Linked DNA regions of Homo sapiens. The protein of the gene in region 1 purifies or fractionates together with the protein of each later gene. This does not show direct contact. Each region holds a gene or a part of one and is shown in the gene's direction. Other genes may lie near its edges.

Region 1 (3,310 bases):
AGTGAGCAGCTCTGTGCAGATACATTTTTGTGTGAGGCAGAAGTGCATGACTGGTGTCACATGCAGAGGGTGAAGGCTTTAGGAGTTACGGAACATCAAAAGCCTTCTTCAGAGTGACTGTCTGTCTCATGTGACTAGCATCGGTCAGTCAGACAGGGCACCCGGGACAATGGGCAGCCACACTGACGCTGAAGTGGAGTGAATCTGAGCACAGCCTCCAACATTCTCTATCTTTTTGTAGAAAACAAAGAAACCCAAGGCAGCAGAGTCTGTTTCAAAACCAGATGTCAGTGAAGGTAAGATCCTTCAAGAGATCCTTATTTTAGCAAAATGCGACTCTAGGGCAGTCTGCTAATATGTTCATGCTTTGTTTTGCATTGTTTTTGCTTTGCCTACTTTGTTTCTTTTACAGAAGCCCCAGGGCCATCAAAAGTTAAGACAGGGAAGCCTGAAGAAGCCAGCCTTGATTCTAGAGAGAAGAAAACCAACTTGGCTCCCAAAAGCACAGGTGGGTCCTGTTGTAGCTACAGGGAGCTGTTTCGAGAAGGCTGGAAACCCAGGTGGCCGAGTCCAGGTTTCACTGGAGTGGGTGGATGGGAAGCCCAAGCCTGTCCTATGTCATGTCTCTAGAGAGTGCACTGAACTCTCTTTAGGGGGGTAACTAAGAAATATTGAACACACCCTCATCAGGAGCCGTGGCAGGAGTGATGGGGTCTGGGCACAAATGCTGGTTGTTTAGATTCCTGTCGAGTAAGTGCTTGGTGCCAAGCAAAAGAGGTTGCGCTGAGAACTGGCTCAGATGTTGCACAGAGACTGTCAGATGGACTGTGGCTCAGGGCCTGCGGGGAATGCCCCCAGTTTCTTTACTCTTGGGGCTTTCATGGGCTCCACGTGTGGCTCTCAGAGTCCCCTCTCTGCTGCCTCTTGACCAAGGATCAGTTTCTCCTAAAACTCACTCTCTGTAACTCAAAGAAAATACCATTTATTTCACAAAAAGAAAAATACAGATTCATTGTTAAGAGTGTGTGATCTTGTGCTCTAAGTAGCATCCAGGGTGGCTGACAGGCTCCCATCCCGGCTCTACATGGGACAGCCACTCAGGTTCCTGTGCCCATTTCCTCCCCTGGAACGCAGGCCCTGCCTCATCAGGACAATCTAAGTCATTCACGGGGCTGGGACCAGTGTCTGCGACAGAGCAAGACAGTAAATGATAGATGTGTTGTGCTGTGTCTGCTTTGCTGGAGTTGGCAATTAAGATGACGTCCGCCAGCACTCACACAGCCAGCAAGAGAACGTCTGGGACAGAGTGACTGATGGGCTTCCCTTCTGAGGATGCGAAGTTTAGAATCATCTTTATCCCAACCCTGACAGTTTTGGCTCTTCATTTTTCTAGCAATGAATGAGAGCTCTTCTGGAAAAGCTGGGAAGCCTCCGTGTGGAGCCACAAAGAGGTCCATCGCTGACAGTGAAGAATCGGAGGCCTACAAGTCCCTCTTTACCACTCACAGCTCCGCCAAGCGCTCCAAGGAGGAGTCTGCCCACTGGGTCACCCACACGTCCTACTGCTTCTGAAGCCCGCACTGCCACCGCTCCTGCCCCAGAAGGTTGTTTAGTTTCCACGTAGGCAGGTCGCTTTGTGCCTCTGAGTGCGCTGCTGTGTGTTCTCTCTATAGTTCTGTGTCATAAAGCTGTCCTGGCCAGCCTTCAAGCTGGTGTGGCCACTCTTGATGTGAGGCGTGTCGGTTCCAGGGGGGACATGGGAGGGGCTGCACAGTGGCCCGAGGTCATGCTTGCTTCCACCTGCAGGTGCATTTGGTCCTTTCCATGGCCAGGAAGCCCTGTGGGCTGCACTTTTTATGCTTGCAGTAACAAGAGACTCCAGAGTCCTCACCGGTGCAGAGTTGGCACATATTAATTAACTAAAATTCTAATGATCTTGCTACCAGCAATAAATCAAGTAGGCCAAGTGAAACTGGGCTTTAAAAAGGATGGATTTCAAATACACTGTGCCCACTAGAAGCTTCGAAGGGCCTCGTCCCTCTGCTACAGCCCTGGGAGGAGCCAGGATCCTTGTTGGTCTAGCTAAATACTGTTAGGGGAGTGTGCCCCATCTCATCATTTCGAAGATAGCAGAGTCATAGTTGGGCACCCAGTGATTGGGTTCAAAAATAAAGCTGGTCTGCCTCTTCTCTCCTCTGTGTTTTTATCTTTTCTACCTTCTGCTCATGCTTGGGTAAGAACATTGCAGCCGTTGCATTGGTGATTACAGGAGTCATTCCATGAAGTCAGAAGAACCCACCCTTCTCTCCTCCAGCAGATGGTAAAGGGAGAATCGTACCCAAAAAGAGGTGCATTTTATCTGCCTATAAGTTGTGTTGACGTCAATAGCTAGTGAAACTTCTCATGAGACTCCTAATGAAGAACCAAGAGCCACAGGCCTCTGCGTGGCTTTCTGCACACGGTGGTATGACTGAGATAGTGACTGGTTCTCTATACAGACCCCGGGGCCCTGGGTTTCCTTCAGAAGCAGAAGGAGCTGTGGGAGGTGAATGGTGGGAGGTGAACAGGCAGGTTCTGTGGGAGACACAGACACGTGGGCAGAACTCCAGGGAGAGGCCAGCAAGGGAGAACCATGTGTGGCCCTGCTTTTTCTCAAACCCTGTGTGGTTCCCGGCTTCACAGTTGATGGGAAGGTTTGGCCCCAAGGATATTTTGACATTGTGAGTATAGAGCATTTTAATAAAAATTAAGTGATGCGTTTTTGTCATGGACTTTTCCAGAACAAACCTGGATTAGCCATTTAATTTCCCCAATTTTCTATACAGCCAAACTCAACCATTTTCTCATTGTTTTTATTTCCCCCTTTTTTTTTTTTTTTTTTTTTAAATTTTGAAACAGGGTCTCACTCTGTCATCCAGGCTGGAGTGCAGTGGCATGATCATGGCTCACCATAGCCTTGACCTCCTGGGCTCAGGTGATCCACCCCCCTCAGCCTCCCGAGTAGCTGGGATTATAGGTGCGCACTACCGCACCCGGCTAATTTTGCTATTTTTTGTAGAGATGAGGTTTCGCCATGTTGCACAGGCTGGTCTTAAACTTCTGGGACCAAGCAATCTGCCCGCCTCGGCCTTCCAAAGTGCTGGGATTACAGGCGTGAGCCACGCTGCCTGGGCCCCCTTTTCTTTTAATGACCATTATTTTTACCAGGTTCGGTTTTCTGAATGTTAGCCTGAATCAGTTTTATTTTGCATTGAATGTATTGACTGTGTCCAGTTTTTTCTGGTAACTGAGTCACAGCATCCTCAACACA
Region 2 (3,648 bases), on another chromosome or scaffold:
TAAGGAAGTGATGCTTACCGTCCACAGTGCTGGGGCGGGACTAGCCTGAGGAGGGGCTGCTGTGGTCCTGTCTGCAGATCAGGAGGACAGGCTGAAGGACGGAGCCTCCACCCAACCGAGGTTACAAATGCCAACTGGGAGGCATTTTCTTCTGTGACAAAATGTCTCATAAGGAAAGCCTGGAGAATTAGAGCTTACTTACAAGCCTTTGCCACCCACTCAGCGAGGGAGGTTTCTCTCTAGCGGAAGCAGAGTTCTGTAGTTGGTGTCTGTTTTCTGAACATCTCCAGGTCGTAGACATGCCAGAACACAACCCAGGGCAGATGGGCGGAACCATGAGGCTGGGCAAGAGGAGAACCCTGTTCCAGACCAAGAACTCAGTCATGAGTAAGAGCTGCCTCACGCTGGCCCAGCCTTTGGCTCTGCGTGCCCAGGACGCGTGTCTTAGGGTGATGCTGTGGCTTCGAGGAGCAGGCTGGCTTTTTTTGGTTTCGTTCTTGCTTTTGAAGTTCATTCTTTCCTCTCTTATTCATACCCTTTTAGGATGCACTGTGATAGCCATAGAAGCAGTGTGGGTCTTAGAAAGGACACTGGCAGTGCAGTCAGACTCCTAGGCATGGGCGCCTCAACAGAATGAGGCAGTGAGGTTACATTCATCCTTATCGGTTACTTTCCTATTAAGACCAGCCATATCAATTGCTGATGTTTGGCAATTTTTGTCACACAAAGATGGCAATTTCATATGATTCAGCCTAAGTAGATTCTGTTCTAATAAAGTACTAATAGATGCTGAAGGTTTAGGGTAGTTTTCGGAGGAAAATAGTTAAGAAAATGACTATTACACAGATTTCCTTCTTGTCTACTGGGAAAATTCTGCCTTTACTGTATTAGCAGAGGCACCCTTGTGTCTGTCTGGGCGTTCTGTAGCAGCATAGCTGGAGTCACTTGAGTATCGGATCTTTCTCTTACCAACTCTGATGTTCTGTGGATTTGGGGATCTCGAGGCAACTGTGAAATGAGTCAGTAGAGCAGCCCGTTCGCAAATGTCCAGCTTGTTCACATGCAGCCACTGAGGGCTGATGACCTTTGATGACCATGATTGGAACTGAATGATCATCAGAGGTCATCTGTGCAGCTCTTAAAATGCCTCCCATCCTGCCACGTTCCCAGGGCCTTGCCGTTTCGTACATCCTGATTTGCTTTCCAAGGCAGTTTTCTAGCAGCAAAGTGCCCATACTTTGCAATCATGTGTTTGAGGGTGGTGGTGAGAGTCTTGTTTCTGTTACAGCTTTCTGTAGTGTTGTCAGAAAGAGTCAAAAGCCCAAGAATTAGTCTAAACTGTGTTGTTAAGAGCAGGTGACCTTAGCAGATTCATAGAAATAGCCCTCAAAAGACCTGGCTGTGTGGATGATGAAAAGTAAAGCAGGAAGGAGGATGTCTTTGTGAACGCATCATCCTGTGAGATAAAGTTCTTTACATACAGCCCGTTTGTTTTGCCAGGGAAACTCTATGGAGACGCAGACTACTTGGAAGAGAGGCACCGCCACCGATTTGAGGTGAGGATTCCAGCTTGCTGGTACTCTGGAAAGATAGTGAGCTGAGAGACCAGCAGAATTATTTTTCATGCCTCAACAGGTGAATCCAGTCTGGAAAAAGTGTTTGGAAGAACAAGGCTTGAAGTTTGTTGGCCAAGATGTTGAAGGAGAGAGAATGGAAATTGTGGAGTTAGAAGGTGATTATTCGGGCAGTTTTATTTAATGGAAAACTTAGTAAAGTTTTCTTGGCATATGGGAAAATATAAAAATGTTATCTTGTTGCTCCTGACCTAACAGAATTAGGAAGCAGCACTGTCTCATGAGGGAAGGGGTCTTGATAAACATGGGGTCTGGACTCTAGAAACTTCTTTCTGGTACATGGCCTTCCTCGGGGAGCCATTTAACTTCTGGCCGCAGTTTCTCCTTCTCCAAAATGCTTGGAGTTGGTACTAAAGCCACTTCAGCCCTCTCCTGAACCGCAAGACTCAGTCTACAGAAATCCTGGGAGCCAGGGTCTTGGGCGGGACCCTGGACAGGAGGCCTTCAGCCAGGAGGGGACAGCACAAACCGTGCTGAGAAAGGGTATCAGATCACTCATGCTTTGAGGTTCCCTTTATCTAGATTCAAATGAGAAAGTCATTTTCAAATTATTTTAGGGCCTATGGAAACAAACATTTAAGCAGATTTTGTTCTTTTACACTTTGTGCATAACCTTCACAATGAAGCTGTTTCTTTTGAATCTCTATTTCAGATCATCCCTTTTTTGTTGGGGTTCAGTACCACCCTGAGTTCCTGTCCAGGCCTATCAAGCCCTCCCCACCATACTTTGGCCTCCTCCTGGCCTCTGTGGGGCGGCTCTCACATTACCTCCAGAAAGGCTGCAGGCTCTCACCCAGGTAGGCGCACTCTTTGCTTCAGTAATCCATTAGTCTTCTCTAGTCCTTTAGGTGGTCGCTGATTCATTACAGCAACACGTCACAGTCAGTCATAAGAAAAAAAAGCCACAGGCGCCTGGGGTGAAAGTTTCCTCTCCTTTCCCGGAGCTTTCTCACGGTGTTTCCCTGGCATATTGGCCAGGTCCCCCTTTCTGCAGCATCTGAGCTCTGGTGGTGCTGACCAGATCACACTTGGCGTAGGACCCTCTGGTCCATGTTAAGGGGAACTAGTTTTTCCTGGGAAGTAAGCCACAATGGGTAGGTTTATGTCCCATTGCCACCTTTATCCAGAACCAGTACTCAGAGTTGGTGGTAGGGTGTGTGACTGAAGTATAAATGGAATGTATATCTTTTGTAGCTAGAAGAAGGAAATCTTTCTGCAGTTTCATGTTAAATATATTATGTAGCAAACAGTCTTTGTGATTCCTGCCATGTGCAGGCAAGTGTCCCTGTAGGAACCGTGGTTACAAAAACAGGGACGTAAAGTGAGTTTTTGGTGGGAGATGATGCGTAAACCATCTGAATTCTACAGGGACACCTATAGTGACAGGAGTGGAAGCAGCTCCCCTGACTCTGAAATCACCGAACTGAAGTTTCCATCAATAAATCATGACTGATCTTGTAGCGTAAGTGGTACTTTAAAGTTTTAGTTTTTAAAAACATGGTGATAACACACTGCGATTGCAAGAATATCATGGAAGTTTAGGGCTGAAAATTTTTATCTGCCAGGAATGAAAGTGGTGAGGTCTTGAATATAATCCAGAGGTTGAGAGAGAAAAGAAAGTAGTGAGGTCATTGTGGGTATCAAATGGGCAGCCCTTCCTCCAAGTTGCAGTGCACCTCCCAGTCCTGCCCTGGGGATGACAGCTTGGGGAGCATGGTCACTGGGCAGTTGTCTCAATACTGATTACTACATTCTGGTGCCAGTCTGACCAGTTCTGGGGCGGGGAAGGGGAGGGTCTGAATTCTTAGACCCTATTGTTTGATGTAGCTGTAAATTTTGGAGATCTTGAAGGAAGGGACAGATACAACAATGTGGCACTTGTCATTTCTGCAGAGCCTCAGGTTTTCATCAGGAAGTACTTTAAAACTGACACTGCTTAGAGAACTTTTTTTTGTTGATTGCTGCTTATTCTGGAATTCCTTCAAAGTTGGAACAATTGCCAAATAGACGTCGA

Evidence for each region.
Region 2: the proteins of RTF2 (region 1) and CTPS1 fractionate together in Homo sapiens (co-fractionation; one large-scale study listed by BioGRID). This does not show direct contact.

Annotation. Positions count from the first base shown.
Region 1 is NC_000020.11:56,516,694-56,520,003, forward strand, and holds the end of RTF2 (replication termination factor 2), read left to right. Parts: intron 1-241; coding exon 242-296; intron 297-412; coding exon 413-508; intron 509-1,393; coding exon 1,394-1,572; 3' UTR 1,573-2,756; downstream 2,757-3,310. UniProt on the Homo sapiens protein: Replication termination factor which is a component of the elongating replisome. Required for ATR pathway signaling upon DNA damage and has a positive activity during DNA replication.
Region 2 is NC_000001.11:41,007,159-41,010,806, forward strand, and holds part of CTPS1 (CTP synthase 1), read left to right. Parts: intron 1-290; coding exon 291-387; intron 388-1,500; coding exon 1,501-1,556; exon of another isoform or gene 1,557-1,635; coding exon 1,636-1,732; exon of another isoform or gene 1,733-1,737; intron 1,738-2,286; coding exon 2,287-2,431; intron 2,432-3,002; coding exon 3,003-3,087; 3' UTR 3,088-3,096; exon of another isoform or gene 3,097-3,100; intron 3,101-3,648. UniProt on the Homo sapiens protein: This enzyme is involved in the de novo synthesis of CTP, a precursor of DNA, RNA and phospholipids. Catalyzes the ATP-dependent amination of UTP to CTP with either L-glutamine or ammonia as a source of nitrogen.